Linked DNA regions of Homo sapiens: region 1 is linked to region 2. A link means that fine-mapping ties the variant in region 2 to the expression of a gene that starts in the linked region. Tissue or cell type: whole blood. Region 2 holds a variant in brackets; the other region holds the start of a gene. All regions are shown on one strand. Distances are from middle to middle.

Region 1 (8,187 bases), 110 kb before region 2:
AATTGTCATTTCAGCAATGGAGAACATTCCTCCTGTAGAGTCTCTTTCACACTTTGAATCTCTCTGACTTCCTCTACTGCCACAAGCAGGAGAAAACTCTCTGTTCTTAAAGTGCTCACTTGATTAGGTTAGGTCTACCTAGAATATTGCCCTTTTGATTAATTCAGAGTCAATTGATTAGCAACCTTAATTATATCTCCAAAATTCCCTTGCAAGTAACATAACATAATCATGGAAGTAATATCCCATCATGTTCACAGGGAGAGGGAATTATACAAGGTAAGTGTCACTGGAGTTCATCTTAGAATTCCACCTGCTACACGGGACTATTCCCTGCATTGCTATATAATTACAGACAAAATTGAAAATATGCAACAAAAAGGATTCATTCAATAAATTACAAAATATCTACATGCTGAAATACTATTGTGCCACACAAAGAGAATATTTAATGATATGAAAAAATTCCATGATACATTAAGTGAAAAAAGCAAAATATAAAATTATATGTCAACAAATACAACATACACTAAAAATTACATCAGAGCAGAGGCTCATGGTTATTCCTACACAGCTCACTTCCAGCAAACCATAGGGTGTCAGTAGCAATTTGTTAAATAAATGAAGAAATATATATCTACATAGATATAAAGAAAAAAAATACATTGACCAAAATGTTGAATGTTCTCTCTAGGTAAATGAATTATAAATAAGTTCAGTTTTTTCCTCTTTATAGTTAAAAACATTTTTACAACTCTAATGTTCTACCTTTTTTTTCTTCCACAACAGTCATCTTAGAATAATGTTCTACTTTTGCACCAAGTTATTAAAAAAAAAATCAGTATCAGAAAACATAAAGCTGGCATTCTTCCCATTCAGAATCTCTAGGAGTAATGAGTCACTCTCCTTTCATCAGTAGTTTATACCCCTCTGCAGAGAATCAACTACTTTCCAAACTTAAGACAGCACTCACTCATTGTCTTCTACAGATAGATAGCAACTATATCCACTTAATCCTACTTGTACCATTACCCTAAGTAGCAGGAGTTGCTGGTATTCTTGAACTTGCCTGGTATGCAGCAGACAACATATTTCCATAACTCAACTAGAATTGGCCAATTTCCTGGTGTTATAAGAGAATCAAGTAAGTCCAAAGTTCAGTTTCCCAAAAACCATCTTATTTATCATGGGAAAACATGCAAGACAGTAGTATAAAGCAGACTGAAATGGGGGCTCAAATCAAAGGCTGTAAGATCCAAAAACAGGGAAAAATGAATTCTCACAGGGAGGATAAATAATGGGTTCATGACAGAAGTAGCATCTGAACTCAACTGTAAAGGATGGATAGGTACATCACAGGTAAGGAAAAATAGGAAAACATTTCTGCTGATAAGAATAGACAATAAAGCATGGAAGAGGGAAATATGCACTTTGAAGCATATTAAACATTTCTTTGCAACTAAAGTTTCATATCTATGTCTATATTGGTATTTATACCTATCTCTATTAGTTGGCTAAATTAGCACTTTTCCTTCAGGTATATAAGAGAGTGCTCATTTGCAAGATTGAGGCCAGATCTTGGTAAGCCTTTAATGCCAGGATAAAGAATTAGACTTCATTGAGTATGCCACAAATGCCATTCAGGGCTACTAGAGTTCCCCACAAGCCCAATGAATAAATAGCACCTGATTTTTCAAAAGCCAAATAAACAGCCAATAGCAGTGCAAAGTTAAATGAGTAGATAATCTCCATGTCATAAGTATATATGGAAGGCAGCTATTCCCTTTTTTCTTACCTCTCTAAAAATAAATGACAATTCAGAGAAAAGTAGTAATCTTCTATTCTAAACAAAATGAGCAGGCAGGGTCCCCCAAGTTTTAGGGCAAAGGAAGAAAGGAAGAAAAGAAGGGAGGGAGGGAGGAAGGAAGGAAGAAAAAAAGGAAGGAAGGAGGGGAGAAAGGAAAAAAGGAAGGAAGGGAGGGAGGGAGGGAAGGAGGAAAGAAAAAGAGGAAGAAGGAAGGAAGGAGAAGGGAGGGAGACAAGAAGGAAAGGAGGAAAGAAAAAGAGGAAGGAGGGAAAAAAGGAAGAGAGGGAGAGAGGGAAGAGAAAACAAGTCTCCTCTAAGCAGGGCCAGGCTTAAAATGATGTTTTTCAGTTAGTACCAAAAATATTCCCCAATCCAAAGAACGCTGGTTTGCTGCTTCCATTGTCTCAAAGGATGTATAGAATTCCACTATTTTCCATCACCAGCTGAAGTAGTTTCTAGTGTTTTCTTGGAGCCAGACTACATTCTAATTTCCTTCAGGGCAGTGGAAATCATGGAAAGATTAATCCTGTGTATATATAGCCTTGCACAGCGTAATACTGTGGATGAGGATTAATCGTACACAGTACCAGAATTCACTGAAGAGTATCTAACTTGGTTAGCATCTTCACCAAGCAGAAGTTAGCATTAGTTCCAAATCCATCTGAATCTCCATCAAAACCATCAGCAGCTGCCAAGGAAACTATGAACAAACTAAAGCAAGTCTTCACCTTTCCAAAATAAGAAACACTTCAGAGTCTGACAGTCTAATAGTTAGACTAACTTTAGTCAAGCTAAGCATCTCCAAACTCAAGAGACAGCTAGCAGGAATCTTTAAGATAACAGCCAGCAAAAACAATTTAGTATTCATTGTCCACATCATTCAAGCACCGCTGAGTCCTACCGTACACTTCCTCCAAGTCACCCTTCTGAAACCCTAGGAACAACACTTGTACTTAGCTGCAAGTTCTGTAGTTGCTCAGTTCCTACACAATTACAGCAGTAATTAATTTAGATTGGGATTATTTTCTTATAATTGAGAAGACTAATGGTCTCCAAACCAACAAGATGGCTTTGTACAGAAAAATCCACAGTAAGCTATAACAATTGAAGTTACAGTTTGAGTGGGTTGGCATATATATTTGCTCCTTTCTTTTGTTTAAGACAGAACCACTTAAGATAAGAGATTTATGTTTTGGAATTTCAGTACTATTTTTTTAAGAGGTGGTATCCTAGAGAGCTCAATCAATATTGTTATACATTGGAAACATTTATGGTGCCATAGGTGTTTACTATTCACAGATCTGGGGAAGATACCTGCCAGGGATATTTCACTACACTGAAACTCCCTGGAAATCTGTAGAGGTAGAGCTCTGCCTTTGGGCATTAGTCATTAAAAATATCTTGTCAGCTACTGTGACAAGTAAAGGCAGCTGAGAAGTACGGTCTAAAGAAGGGTAAATCTCGCCGTGTGCACAGTTACCCTTCGCATTTCTACAAGTGAAATGGGAGTAAAAATGAGCATTCAAAGCTGTCAAAGGAAAAGCAGTCCAGCAGTTCGAAGGGATATTCTGTGATGGACCAACTGTATGGTACAGTGTGTAAATGAACTTCAGGTCTATCTAGCGCCACGGGGGAGCCACGCTTTCGCACCACTGAGCTCTGGGGATGGGGAGAGTAGTGCAGGTTGGGGCCCCGTTTAGGAAACTACGAAGGGCTCTGAGAGAGCGAATTGTTCAGCAGTTTCCGTGACAGAACAATGATCTATTTAAGAAGTAATGGGGCAAGCAAAGAAAGCAGAGCTCGGTCATCCGGAAAAAGAAAGAGGAGCCGGAAAGAAAAGTATCAAGGAATCTACTGTGAGAGAGCGAGCAAAAAGCAAAAAGCGATCACAAATCCAGAGCAAGTAAGAGCTCAGGGATGCCGGGCCCGGGGGTCTAGCCTTTCTGAAGGGAGAGGGCTCCCCAGGCACGGGGGCAGCGCGAGGCAGCGCCCGCATTCCGTCTGCTGCCTTATCTTCGCATTCTCCCTACCACCCCCACCTTCCCCCCGGGACTGGAATAACCTTCTTCGTGCTCTCCGGTGGCTGAGAAAGCAGCTTTCGCTCTTCTGTGGTAGCGTGGAGGTGAGGTACATCTACCTCCACCCTCCCGGCACCAGCTCACGGTCTGTTGGGGGGGTCCTCCTAACGTGTGAGGCTAGGGTGTGTGAATGAAAAAGAGGGAGGCGGAGGCCTCCTGGAGACCTTCGACCTCTCAAGACCAGGCAGGGGCGCCCTTCCGCAAGCTCCCAGCTCTAGCCGGTGCCTCTGGCCCCGCGCGCATTAGGTCGCTGCCAGAAAATTACCCGGGCAACGACACCGCCGGAGTCCCGGATGTGGTTGCTAGGGCAGCAGAGGGAGGGGCGTAGCCCGCCTCCCGGAGAAGGGCGGAGGGATCCTCGTGGGAGGTGCGCTGACACCACCGAGACGTGGCCGGGCAAGGCCGGATTGAGGGAGAGAGAGGCCGTCCAGGGCCAGGGACAACGCTACTTCCGGTCTCCTCACTTCCGGCTTCGCTGCTCTTGGTTCTGGTTCTGGAGGCTGGGTTGAGAGGTCGCCGGTCCGACTGTCCTCGGCGGTTGGTCAGTGTGAATTTGTGACAGCTGCAGTTGCTCCCCGCCCCCGAGCAGCCGAGGTGCGTGGGGGAAGGGGAAGAAGGAAAAGGTCCGGGTCGCGTTTCCGCTCAGTTTTTGCCAGGGTTGAGGCGATTCCAGAGAGCGGCGGAAAGGATAAGCCTCGACTTAGAAGCTACCGAGTTACCCTAAGAAAGGTGAGGGCGGAGCTGGCTCGCCTGGGAAAAGGCGGGGGAAAGATGGTTTGAGGTGGCTGGTGGGGCGGGCACGTTGCCTACGGGTTCACCGTTCCGAACTTTCACAGGGCACGCCTCTCCTTAGTCTGTGCCGTATCTGCCCAAGTGTTATGCCTTTGGTTTCTTCTGTCCTTCATTCCTTCTGTCCCTCTGAGTGTGCCCCCGAAACAGTCGAGTGAAGGTGTAGGACCGGCCCTTGCAGGGAGGCACTCTCTTGGCTTTGCATACATTGGGTGGGAAAAGGAGTTGCAGGATCCAGAATCCGGACCTTTCTTGACAAAGTGTCGGAGTGGGCCACCTTCAGGCTTGCTGTCCAACCCTCATTTCTCCCCTCTTCTCCCTGCATCCCCAGCTTCCTCTCTCCCGCAGTGGGAGGAAGGGAGATAGTGACAGTCCCTCTGAGAGATTCATCTGGCAGTGGTGCAGAGAGGAGTCTTGCCTGTGAAATGTCCCAAGCCTGACTAAGGAATGCTGGAGTTTTGGAAAGGGAGTTGTTCGATTGTCTTCTGCTCCGTTCCTGTTTGCCAAGTTACTACTGTTTACGTGTCTAGGAAAAGGAAATAATTTTTTAAAAACAGTTTTTAGATGCTAGACGTTTTTCCCTTTTACTTTATTTTGTTATTACTTCCTTTGTTTTGTTCTTACCTTCCTCTTGAGCCCTTTGATTTCAAAAAGTTTACACTTTATACTTCCTGCAGATCCTTTGGCCACTCTTAGGATTTCTGTCCCCCGCCCCTACCCTGTTTTCTCCTAAAGTATAAAATTCATCTAACTACATTATTATTTGATAAGGAAAAGCCGGAAGAGATCCAGAACTTCGCATAAACTTTTGCTTTCATACTTTCACCTGTAAGGGTGTGTTCATGTTTGCCATTTAATTAACTTAATTGGCATAGAAATGTGCACCAGAAATGGTTACCTTAAGTCAGCCGTCTGTTAAGGCTTCAGGAATTGGCCTTTTCTTTTTTCTTTTTTTTTTTTTTTTTTTGAGACAGAGTCTCACTCTGTCGCCCAGGCTGGAGTGCATTGGCACGATCTCGGCTCACCGCAACGTCCACCTCCCAGGCTCAAGCTTTTCTCCTGTCTCAGCCTTCTGAGTAGCTGGGTTTACAGGTAGGCGCCACTACCGCCTAGCTAATTTTTGTATTTTTAGTAGAGACGGGGTTTCACCGTGTTGGCCAGGCTGGTCTCAAACTCCTGACCTCAAATGATCCTCCCTCCTCGGCCTCCCAAAGTGTTGGGATTACAGGCGTGAGCCACCGCGCCCGGCCGAATTGGCCATTTCATTGCTGTTCTCTCAGAGCGGCTACAGATTACTATATTTTACTGCTGCCTTAATTCTGCTTTTCTTTCGTTTGTCCTGTGGTGTTTTTTGTTTTGTTTTCCTTGCTTAGCATGACCCACGTCTTCTCCCAACTACCAAGTCTAACACACTTTTATCTGAGAAAAGAGAAAAGATTTCTAATGTATTTTGTGGATTAAATCCCTGCCTCAGTTACTTTAGTTTCTTTCCAAATTGATAAACTGGTTTTCCTTGGATTATGATTTGCCTTAATCCTGGATGATGACTTGGGGTTCATGGCCTAAGGGTCAACAACTTTCAGGGGTCTTCCTCATTCCCACCCCTGAAATTATATGCAGTTTTGTTTGAGTGAATTTTTTTCCCCCCTGGGGAAAGTGTCCATTGTTTTTATCAAATTCTCAAAGGAGATATACAGCCTCTTGATAGATTAAAACCACCACTTAGGCAGTGTCTTGTTGAAGTTAGTGAAAACAGGTTTTGTGTGTGTATGTGTGTGTGTGTTTTCCACTTAGGCAGTATCTTGTTGAAGTTAGTGAAAACAGGTGTGTATGTGTGTGTGCTTTCCCAAACTGTGCAAAGGAGATATATAGCTTCTTGATAGATTAAAACCACCACTTAGGCAGTGTCTTGTTGAAGTTAGTGAAAACAGGTAGGGGTGTGTGTGTGTGTGTGTGTGTGTGTGTGTGTGTGTTTTCCCAAACTGTAAATTGTTTGCTTTGGGACCAAGGAAAGGAGAATGCAGGGATTCTTCTAGTTTGATATTGAAATCTCTCCTTTAAAACATTAGTGTTTCTAAATTCCTTCCTAGACTTACAGAAGGAAATGAGGCTGCCCACTTTATTTCCTGATTTGTGGTTTTGAGGTTTCTTCTTAGGGATAGCTGTTTGTGGTCCATGCTCTGGAGATCCAGTGGATTTACAAACTGATGTGCCTATCTTTAATATGTATTAAATATCACCAACCAACTAGGCACAGTTCAGAGTAAAAAATTTAAATTCTAGTTGTATTTTGCTTTCATTTTCTTAATTTTTTTTGCTTGAGGCATGTACCTTAGGATTTGATTTGGCTTTGCTATGAAAAACAAACAAGATGTTTCAGTGGTGTGGTCCTTTGGAATGTTGTTGCTTATCTTGACATCCCCTTTCCCTCCATTCTGTATGAGATATTTTAATGATTGTTTCTCTCTTGTGAATACGTTAGTATCCTTCCAAGCTTAATGTAAGTTTTAGAGTACATATTTGAACTTACTGATTTGGTTGTGAATTATTTGTTGATTGAGGGTTGCAGTTCTAAAGGTCTGATACTTTTTTTTTTAGAATGTTAACTTGAAGAGACCTATACAGCTCATCATAGTCTATCATGAGTATCCAGTTTCTTCTGCTCACAGAATAAGTTTTCCTCTGTCTAGCAACCTCACTTGGGGGAGCAGTCAACATAAGTTTATAGAGAATAGCGTATGCTAGGCTGGGCACGGTGCCTCACACCTGTAATCCCAACACTTTGGGAGGCTGTGGCGGGTGGATCACTTGATGTCAGGAGTTCAAAACCTGGCCAACATGGTGAAACCCCATCTCTCCTAAAAATAAAAAAATTAGCCGGGTGTGTGTTGCATGCCTGTAGTCCCAGCTACTTGGGAGGGGCTGAGGCAGGAGAATCGCTTGAACCCAGGAGGCGGAGGCTGCAGTAAGCCAAGATCCCACCACTTCACTCCAGCCTGGCCAACAGAGTGAGACTCCATCTCAAAAACAACATCAACAACAGACTAGCTTATGCTAAATTAGTTTCCTTTTAAGGTAATGACAAATTCGGAAGATATTTTATATCTAACACTGTAACAGTTACATTTATTTGCTTACCATGTGCATTAAGCTAAGTGCTTTACATTATTATCTCAAATGATAACCTTATAAAGTGGCTAAAGTCCTCATTTCTGTAGGTGAAGAAAATAAAGCTGAATGATTAACTGAAGCTAAAGTAGTCTGCTCAGAATTGCGCTGGTGGAGCCAGTGCATGGCTCCACCTACGTTGTCTGACTCTAGACTACTACTGTAGACAACTTCTACCATGCGTCCATTATGTCCTTTTTGAAATGAGTTGGAGATATATCACCTGACTTTCTATCAGGTGTTGAGAAAAGGTTGTTTCCTTTCTTAATCTTCAGTGGATGAACATCTGGTTGAATATCATACTGAGAAGTTTGACAAAAAAGTGAATTTGGTGGAGGCAGTTGG
Region 2 (8,187 bases):
AGTCAAAACACAAAAAAAATGCACTTTGTTTTATGTCTGAAAGTTTTAACCAATTATTACCTAATTTGGCTGTGAAAGTTATAGTTTCTCTGATTAATAATCTGCTCTATTTTTCTTTCCAACAGCTGTGCTTATAGTATAATAGAAACAAAATGTAGAAATGAAAATATTGTTTCTACTACAAAGTAACTTAAAAAAATTATTTAGCTTTTAGGTATGTATCTGAGCTGATGACAATTTTGGTTTATTAGACTTTTTCAGTAATTATATGGCTAGCTGTGATTTCGATTCTTAAAGACGGAAAGGAAAAGTAAAACTGCTACAGCTAGATCTCTATCTAAATCACATATTTTCCCATTAGTGACGTGCTTGAGATTTTTAAGTCACTTTTACTGATTTATTACTGAATAAATTAAGGTGACTTCTTTGTTTTAGGAAGAATTTGGCTATAATGCCGATACCCAGAAACTGCTGGCTAAAAATGGAGAGACTCTTCTTGGGGCCATTAATTTTTTCATTGCTAGTGTGAACACTTTGGTGAATAAAACCATTGAAGATACATTAATGACTGTGAAACAGTATGAAAGTGCCAGGTAAGGTATACATTTTCACTGTGTTGTCTGTTTTACAGATGGCATATAATTCAGTTAATTTTTTGGTTACAAACAACAGAAACCAACTCTGGCCAATATGGGCAGGAAAAAAATGTACTGGAAAGTTATAGGATGCCTCTACAGACCTGGCAGAAAGGGAGAGAACAAGATTCTGGAAACAACCAAGAACCAAAGCCAAGTTAAGCCTCAGAAGAATCTAATTAGAACCCCTATGCTGGGTGCCTCTAGTACTTGATGCTGCCACAGCTACCATAAATAATTTCCTAAATACCCATGAATACTTGCTTCATTGCCTTGAGATTATCTAATTGAGCCTTGGTCATGTGCCCAAACCCTGCCTTCTAGTGAGTAGGGAAATGGAGGATCTCCCAGCTCTGGCTTCTTTAGAAGAGGACAGGGCCCTATGTTCTACCAGGTAGGTATTACATGGTCCTCTATACTCTCGCCTAAATTTACCTTTCATCCTTATTACCACTGCTTCCACAATAGCCAGACCCATACTTTCAGTTTCTATTGAATAAATAAGCTCATTTTGCCTCCATGATTTTTGTTTGTTAGGATATCAGTCATCTTCCATTTATCCAGATTATAACAAGCCTTCAAACCCTTTCAAATTTTACCTTTTATATAAATTAAATATTTGACTTGTATTTTGATAACTGTTCATAATGCAGTGTTTTTATACATCCTATTTTAATGGGTTTTTGTATATCCATATTCATATATATATGTATATATACAGTTTCCCTGTCTCATAACTATCCTGTTAAATGGTGAACAAAATATATATTAATAAATATATTAATAAATATTTTGAAGGGTCTAAAATATGGCAGACCTATAATAGCCTTTTTCACCTTTTGATTCCAGGCCCAATTTTTTCCCCATATGCCCTACCCCTTTTATTTAAGTATCATTCTAGTCCCTTTTGAGGTTTTTTTCTTTTGAGCACTCAAAATTCTTATTTTCCATTATACTTTTTATGCATAGTTGAAGATAAACTTTACCTTTTAGAAGGATAACTTTACTCTTTGGCCTCTTATCCTAGTTTAATGGTATGAGAAATACCTGTAAAAAACTCCAAACTCATCTAGTATTTTTGCAATTGAGTGCTTATTAAATATATATTTCCTTACACTTCAATTAAGTAAAAGCCCAAATCATTTTGAAAAGTTAATTTTTGATGTTTTCACAGGAAGAGATGCTTCTGTCCCATACCATGTTTATTTTGTCATTTTCCATTTAGTATTAAAGTATGAGATTCTTATTGACTTGAAAATGAAGGTCAAACAGCTGTGGTTGTATGGAGGGGTAAGGGTGAGGATAGCTGTTAGTAAGATAGCCTTCCGTGGAAATCTCTTCAATAACATTCTCAGTAATTGGTGTTTCAGTCTCAGTGTAAATCCTTTCATGGAAATTATATTTTTCAAAGGGTTCATTATGTATATGAATTTTAAAATTCATTTATATAAGTTTTACTTGATCCTTTTCTAAATTTTTCTGTTCCTTGTTCATAATGTCCTAATTTGTTCATAATGGTACTGTTTCTTTTATCTCTAATCATTTTAAATATTCATATTTTCTAGTCCTTCTGATTGTTTTAACATGTATGGGTTTTAAAGATGGATATTGTTTTCTTCCAAAAATACCCCCACCACCTCCTAGTTGAGAACTTTGTGAATCTAGTTTCTCTACTTTGCAATTGTCTACCTATCCTGAAATATATTTTCGTTAATAATAATCTCTTTCCCTTCAGCTTTTATTTCTAAACAGTTTATAATTAATTTGTAGAGGAGAAAACACTCTAGAGGTTAAATGGTTTGCTCACTTGTAGTCAATTTCAAAGGCAAAATAAGAACCCATTGGTTCTCTATGGTTCACATTTTATCAGTAGGCCTTATACCTGAGTATTAGTGCCCTAAGTATAATGTGGTATAAGATCTCAGATTATAAAATACAGTATATAGGTTCATTTGGAACTTTTGAACAAAATTATAAATCAAGTTACATGTACTTGGTGGCTGGTTTCTTAAGGGAAACCCTTACACAGCCTCTGTGTGTACTTTAAAAAACAACAACAGTAATGTTGTTTTTGTTTTATGTCATCCCGTAATTTATCCTTTTTTATTCAAATTACAATGTATGATCTTATTCATTAAGCTTAGCTTGGGGTTTGACTTTTCTGTTGTTTATGAAATAGCTGTGGAATTGGCTAGTTGTTAACACTAAAACCTTGCCTACTGATGGATAATAGTCAAAAAGAATCCAAGGTTAAAAGTTTTTCAGTAGCTGAATTTCCTTCTCTGTCAAAGCCAGAATTTACTGACTTTTAGGGCAAGGGTCATCTATTTGATCAGTGCAAAAAGTGGTAATTTAGGCAAATGCCCGAGTGGCCTTTTAATCCTCCCTATTATGCATTGTGTACAAGTATTTCCTAGCCCTCTGGTGCTTCATGTATAGAAAATCTTGTAACAGCCCATTCAACACTTCTCCACAGCAGCACCAACAAGGGAGTCAATTGTGGTCGAGACTTTTCAGATGTGGACACCTGTTCTCTAGAAGTTTTACATAAGCCATAAAGTAACCGTCACTAACTTTGTTGATACGGACTCAGTTCAGACGGGCAACCTTGAAGTGAAGTTGCTTTTTGAAAACTTAGTGAGCTTCTCTTCTTGGTGGTAATGAGCACTGTTAGAGAAGCTATTATGGAAAGTTTTACTTTGGTACCACCTACAAACTCTGAATGTAAAATTAAGAAATAT[A/G]AGGTCAGTATTATAACTTTGAATATGTTTGAGTTAATCACTGTTGTTTAGAAATGCGCTCCAAGGCTATTGAAGGATATTTGTCCTTAGATTAAATCACCATGTATTACTATTTATTTAGTTCTACTTTTTTCTCTTTTATTTCCTATTGTTTTTAGTGTGCTTGCTTCTAGATACCCCTCTTCTAATTTGGCCATAATAATAAGCATTCTAAAGGTATCAGTTATTACCAGGTATCCTGTGTGTTTTATCTATATGAAGTTTTTGTGGAGATTTTTGTTCACATTTATAGATTGAAAAACTGGAGCACAAAGAGATGAAATAACCAGCTCAAGAATAGAGCCAAAAGGCAGAGAGGTCATTCAGCTTGGCTCCTGAACCCATGGATTTAACTAACTAGTTATTATTGCCAAGTCAGTCTTGCCTCCTAAATCTTTTGTATTTGTCTCCTTAGCTCCAATGCCTTTGTCCTGATTCAGTGACTCATTTCTTATATGTCCATCGTTTTCTAATAGGTTTCCTTGCTCCTGATTTTTTAATCATTTATTCTATCCTCCATCTCTTACACTACCACCAGGGTCATCTTTCTATCCTGATACAATCATGTCATTTTTATGTCAGATCAACATTCTTCAGTGGCTTCCCATTACTTCTCCTACTGGATTAAATTTAAACACTTTAACATGGCCTGTAGGGCTGCTTACTTTCAATCCTGCCTGCCTGTCTAATGTTAATTCCTTCCATTGTCATGTTCCAGCTTCAGATTCTGACATACCGAATTCCCAAATGTGTCATTGTATCTTACAAATCTATGCCTTTGTCCATGCTATTCTCTTCAGAATCAGAGTATCCTACTGATTTCTGTATCCCAATTCACCTAGCCAGCTTTTACCATCCTTCAAATTTTAATTATAGTATTTTAATTCTGTCTGAGATACCTTTTCAGATATCTAATTAAATAATTATTCCTCTTGATTTCCATTATACCTTACCCTCATTTATGGTAGTTCTTATTATCTCATTTTGTTGTAATTGTTTACAAGGTTCTCTTCCTCTAGAATGCGAGCTTCTTGAGGATAAACATATCTGTTCATCTTTATAGCTCTACTTTCTAACACAGTGCCTGGAACGTGGAAAGTGCTCACTTGAGAATTGTTGAATGAATCAGTGTATCAGTGAATGAATGAATGGTTCTCTTTTGACCCTGAAAGAGGCCAATTAAATTAAATCTTAACTCATACTGCTAAATTCAGTATGAGTTAAGAATAAATTAGGATCAGTGTGAAGGACTGATGTATTCTTTCTCAAGTCATATATACAATATAGATTATGTTATTTAAAGTATTGTTAATTCCCAGAATAGGAGATGTGAATTATACACCTAATATCTCCAAATAAAGAGCTTTAGTTTTAGGGTATAAGCTTTGTGATTCTGATCTTGACTAAATTAGAGGTCACTTTGCTTCTTCTTTGCTGAGTACCGAATAGTTGAAGCTGCTGGATAAATCACTGTTTAATAAGCAAGATAGTACTATACTTAGACAGGCACTGTGATAGAGCTATTATGAGGAGTTATGGGATCTTGGAGTGATGACAGTGGTGGGGTAACTATTTGAGTTGATGGGGGGAGAATATCAGAGTGAGGCATCTTACAGAACACAGGATGGTAAGTGCTCTACAATAGATACTGTTGTTACATTCTGAATACTGATGTTACAGAAATTCATCTAGAGTTGTGTTGTCAAGTATAGTAGCCACACATGTCTGGTGAGCACTTGAAATGTGGCTAGTCTGAATTGAGATGGGATAGAAGTGTAAAATACACAGTGGATTTCAAAGACTCACTACCCACTCTCCAAATGTAAAGTACCTATGAATAATTCTGTTACATTGATTACATGCCACAATGATTAATATTTTAGATATATTGGGTAAAATGAAATATATTGATAACAGGTGAAATTAATTATTATTTCATTGTAACTACTAGAAAATTTTAAATTACATGTGTTACTCACATTACATTTTTGTTGTGCATTGCTAACCCAGACTTTTTTCAGAACCATTTACACTTCCGTTAGTTTTAGTATGCCATTCTAGAGTCTGCTGTCCTTACCTGCTTTGCCTAATCAGTACTAAGCAATTCACTTGGGGTATTTATTCTACCCTTGATCTTGTTTTGACATTTATTTTTTTTAACTGGTTTTTAGATTTTGGAAATTTTACTTGTCAGTTAATACTGTGCTTTGAGAGAAATAGTTAATGAGATTAACCAGCAGCTTTGTTCTTATTTAAATAGCTCTTTGTTTTTAAAGAAATAATGATTTCAAAAGCGTCAAGTAGAATATGTGTGAGAATTTTATATATTTTATTGTATAGTATGAGACTGAATATTACGTATTTCCAACCCATTTTTTGAACATACTTTACTGTTCTTGTAGTATGCTTCACTTACTCTCTTCTTTCCAGGATTGAATATGATGCATATCGCACTGATTTGGAAGAACTGAATCTTGGACCACGTGACGCAAACACTCTGCCAAAGATTGAGCAGTCACAGCATCTCTTCCAAGCACATAAGGAAAAATATGATAAAATGCGCAATGATGTTTCTGTCAAATTGAAATTTCTAGAAGAAAATAAGGTAAATTCTTTACCTTCTAAGGTCTTTCTGTGGACTTTGAAGTCACCCTAAAGAGAGATAGTCAGTTTTTCTGTTTCTGTTAACTCTCTTGTATGACAATTGCAAGAAGGAATTCCATTTGTAATCAGTGTTTGAGTTTTTAGAAGCATACAAAATATATTTACCTTTCTTTGATAAAAGTTATCAATGCCACCGTCCCAGTCTTTCACATATAACACATGGCAAAAAGTATTTGATGGACAGCCATTGATCTTTGGATTGGCGTTGATAGCAAGTGCTTTAAAAATTGAAATAATGATAGATTATGCTCTGAATATTTTGAAGCTTTTCTATTAATGATAGGTACAGATTTCAGGAAAAGAACTATGGCATTCTTCTCAGCAATTGATAAGTGAAAAATAGCTAAAAGGTCCAGCTTAGGGCTGCAGTTAGCATAACCTAGGAGAAGGAAGCCAAGAGATCCATTTTCCACATTTTTTTCATATGTGAACACATCTAAGGACTAGAGCAACGAGGGCTGAACTGGACCAGCTGTAGGTTTCAGCAGGAAGTGGATTCATATACTAATAGGCTCCTGTGTTTTGGTTTAAGTAAAAGGATGGTTTCTCATGTTTGACATATCTCTATTACTTGCATATTCAGCTTTGTATGCAGGATTGCAGTTCTGGAAATGGGAAATGAGTGAGCATGGTACGGAATAGGTGTAGTGCAGTCCTGAACAGATGGGTCTCACCATTGCACGTTGGTAGTTTTTTCTGTGCATTTCACATCCTGTGAAGTCATGACAGGTCTTCAACTGTACTCTCTTCCAGGTACCCTCTTAAAATTGTTTTTCAGTTCTCTCAGGAAACAGTCATGTTTATATTCTCCTCCATAACATCAAAGGGCATTTTAGTAAACTATAACTGTCAGTATCTTATTGTTTTCTTTAACATTTCCTTAGAAACTCTCATGGCTACTATAAAACCTATAAAATAATATATTTCTTTGGGATCCACCTAGTCCAGCACTTTCACTGACTTGTTTTTAAGCTGCTATGGGTGAAAATTACTCACCAGAAAACATTATAGTGGCAATAAAGGAAACCTCAGCAGAGTTGTTAGAAAAATTGCCTGGCATCATTCAGACAGAGCCCAGTGCAGCCTTCTGGTATTCATTAGCTGAGCACATAAGATTGCATTCATTTTAGTCATATATATATATATATATATATATATATATATATATACACCTATTTTTGTGTGTGTGTGTATATTTATGTGTATATATAAATATATATACACATAAATATATATATACTATATATACATATATATACTATATAGTATATATATGCACTATATATAGTATATATACACTAATATATACTATATAATATATATATGCACTATATATAGTATATATACACTAATATATACTATATATACTATACTATATATACTATATATTATATACTATACTATATACTATATATACTATATATTATATACTATACTATATACTATATATATACTATATATACTATATACTATATATATACTATATATACTATATATACTATATATATACTAATATATAGTGTATGTATACTATATATATACTAATATATAGTGTATGTATACTATACATACACTATATATTTTAGTCATATATACATATTTTAGTCATATATATTTAGTCATATATATAATGGATGTGAATATATCAATATTTAGATAATAGACATTGTACATTTTAAATATAAAAATATTTTTGGCATTCCACCCTATCATCACTACACAATAATACTAAAAGAGGTATGCTAGAAGAATATACGTGTTTGATAGAAAAGTAGACTAACATAGTGAAACATAAGGTTCATGTGATTTAAAGGAAGAGTGAATCAAATGGTAATTGGAAGCCAGATTATACTAAGCCTTGACCACATACAGACTTTGAATTGTGGCCTTGGAATGTGTACACTGAGCAGGGAGGGAAGAAGGAGACACTTTCGTTTACAGAGGGAGGGAAGGAGACACTTTTCATTTATAGAGCCAGGTCGTCTCTATAAATTTTAAATGTCAATCAGATGAATGTTACTTCTGATTTTATCTTGTAAATATTGAAGAATTTTTAAAGTTGAGAGTAGCAGGAAAAAGTCATTTAGAAAGTCTCTTTCTTTCTTAAG

What was found. PIP is the estimated chance that this variant, and not a neighbour inherited with it, causes the effect.
Region 1: ARFIP1 starts here. The variant in region 2 is fine-mapped to the expression of ARFIP1 in whole blood (INTERVAL, PIP above 0.99).

What each region holds. Positions count from the first base shown.
Region 1 is chr4:152,775,613-152,783,799 of GRCh38, forward strand. ARFIP1 (ARF interacting protein 1) reads left to right here and starts at 4,342. Exons shown (of 9, transcript NM_001025595.3): 1 at 4,342-4,614. TIGD4 (tigger transposable element derived 4) reads right to left here and starts at 4,118. Exons shown (of 2, transcript NM_145720.4): 1 at 3,870-4,118. RefSeq lists enhancers at 3,560-3,769, 4,220-4,379, 4,570-4,619.
Region 2 is chr4:152,882,288-152,890,474 of GRCh38, forward strand. ARFIP1 (ARF interacting protein 1) reads left to right here. Exons shown (of 9, transcript NM_001025595.3): 7 at 436-593; 8 at 5,846-6,020. Among named protein-coding and RNA genes, the nearest start is that of FHDC1, 50 kb to the right of the region's middle. The variant A/G (reference allele first, on the strand shown) is at 3,377.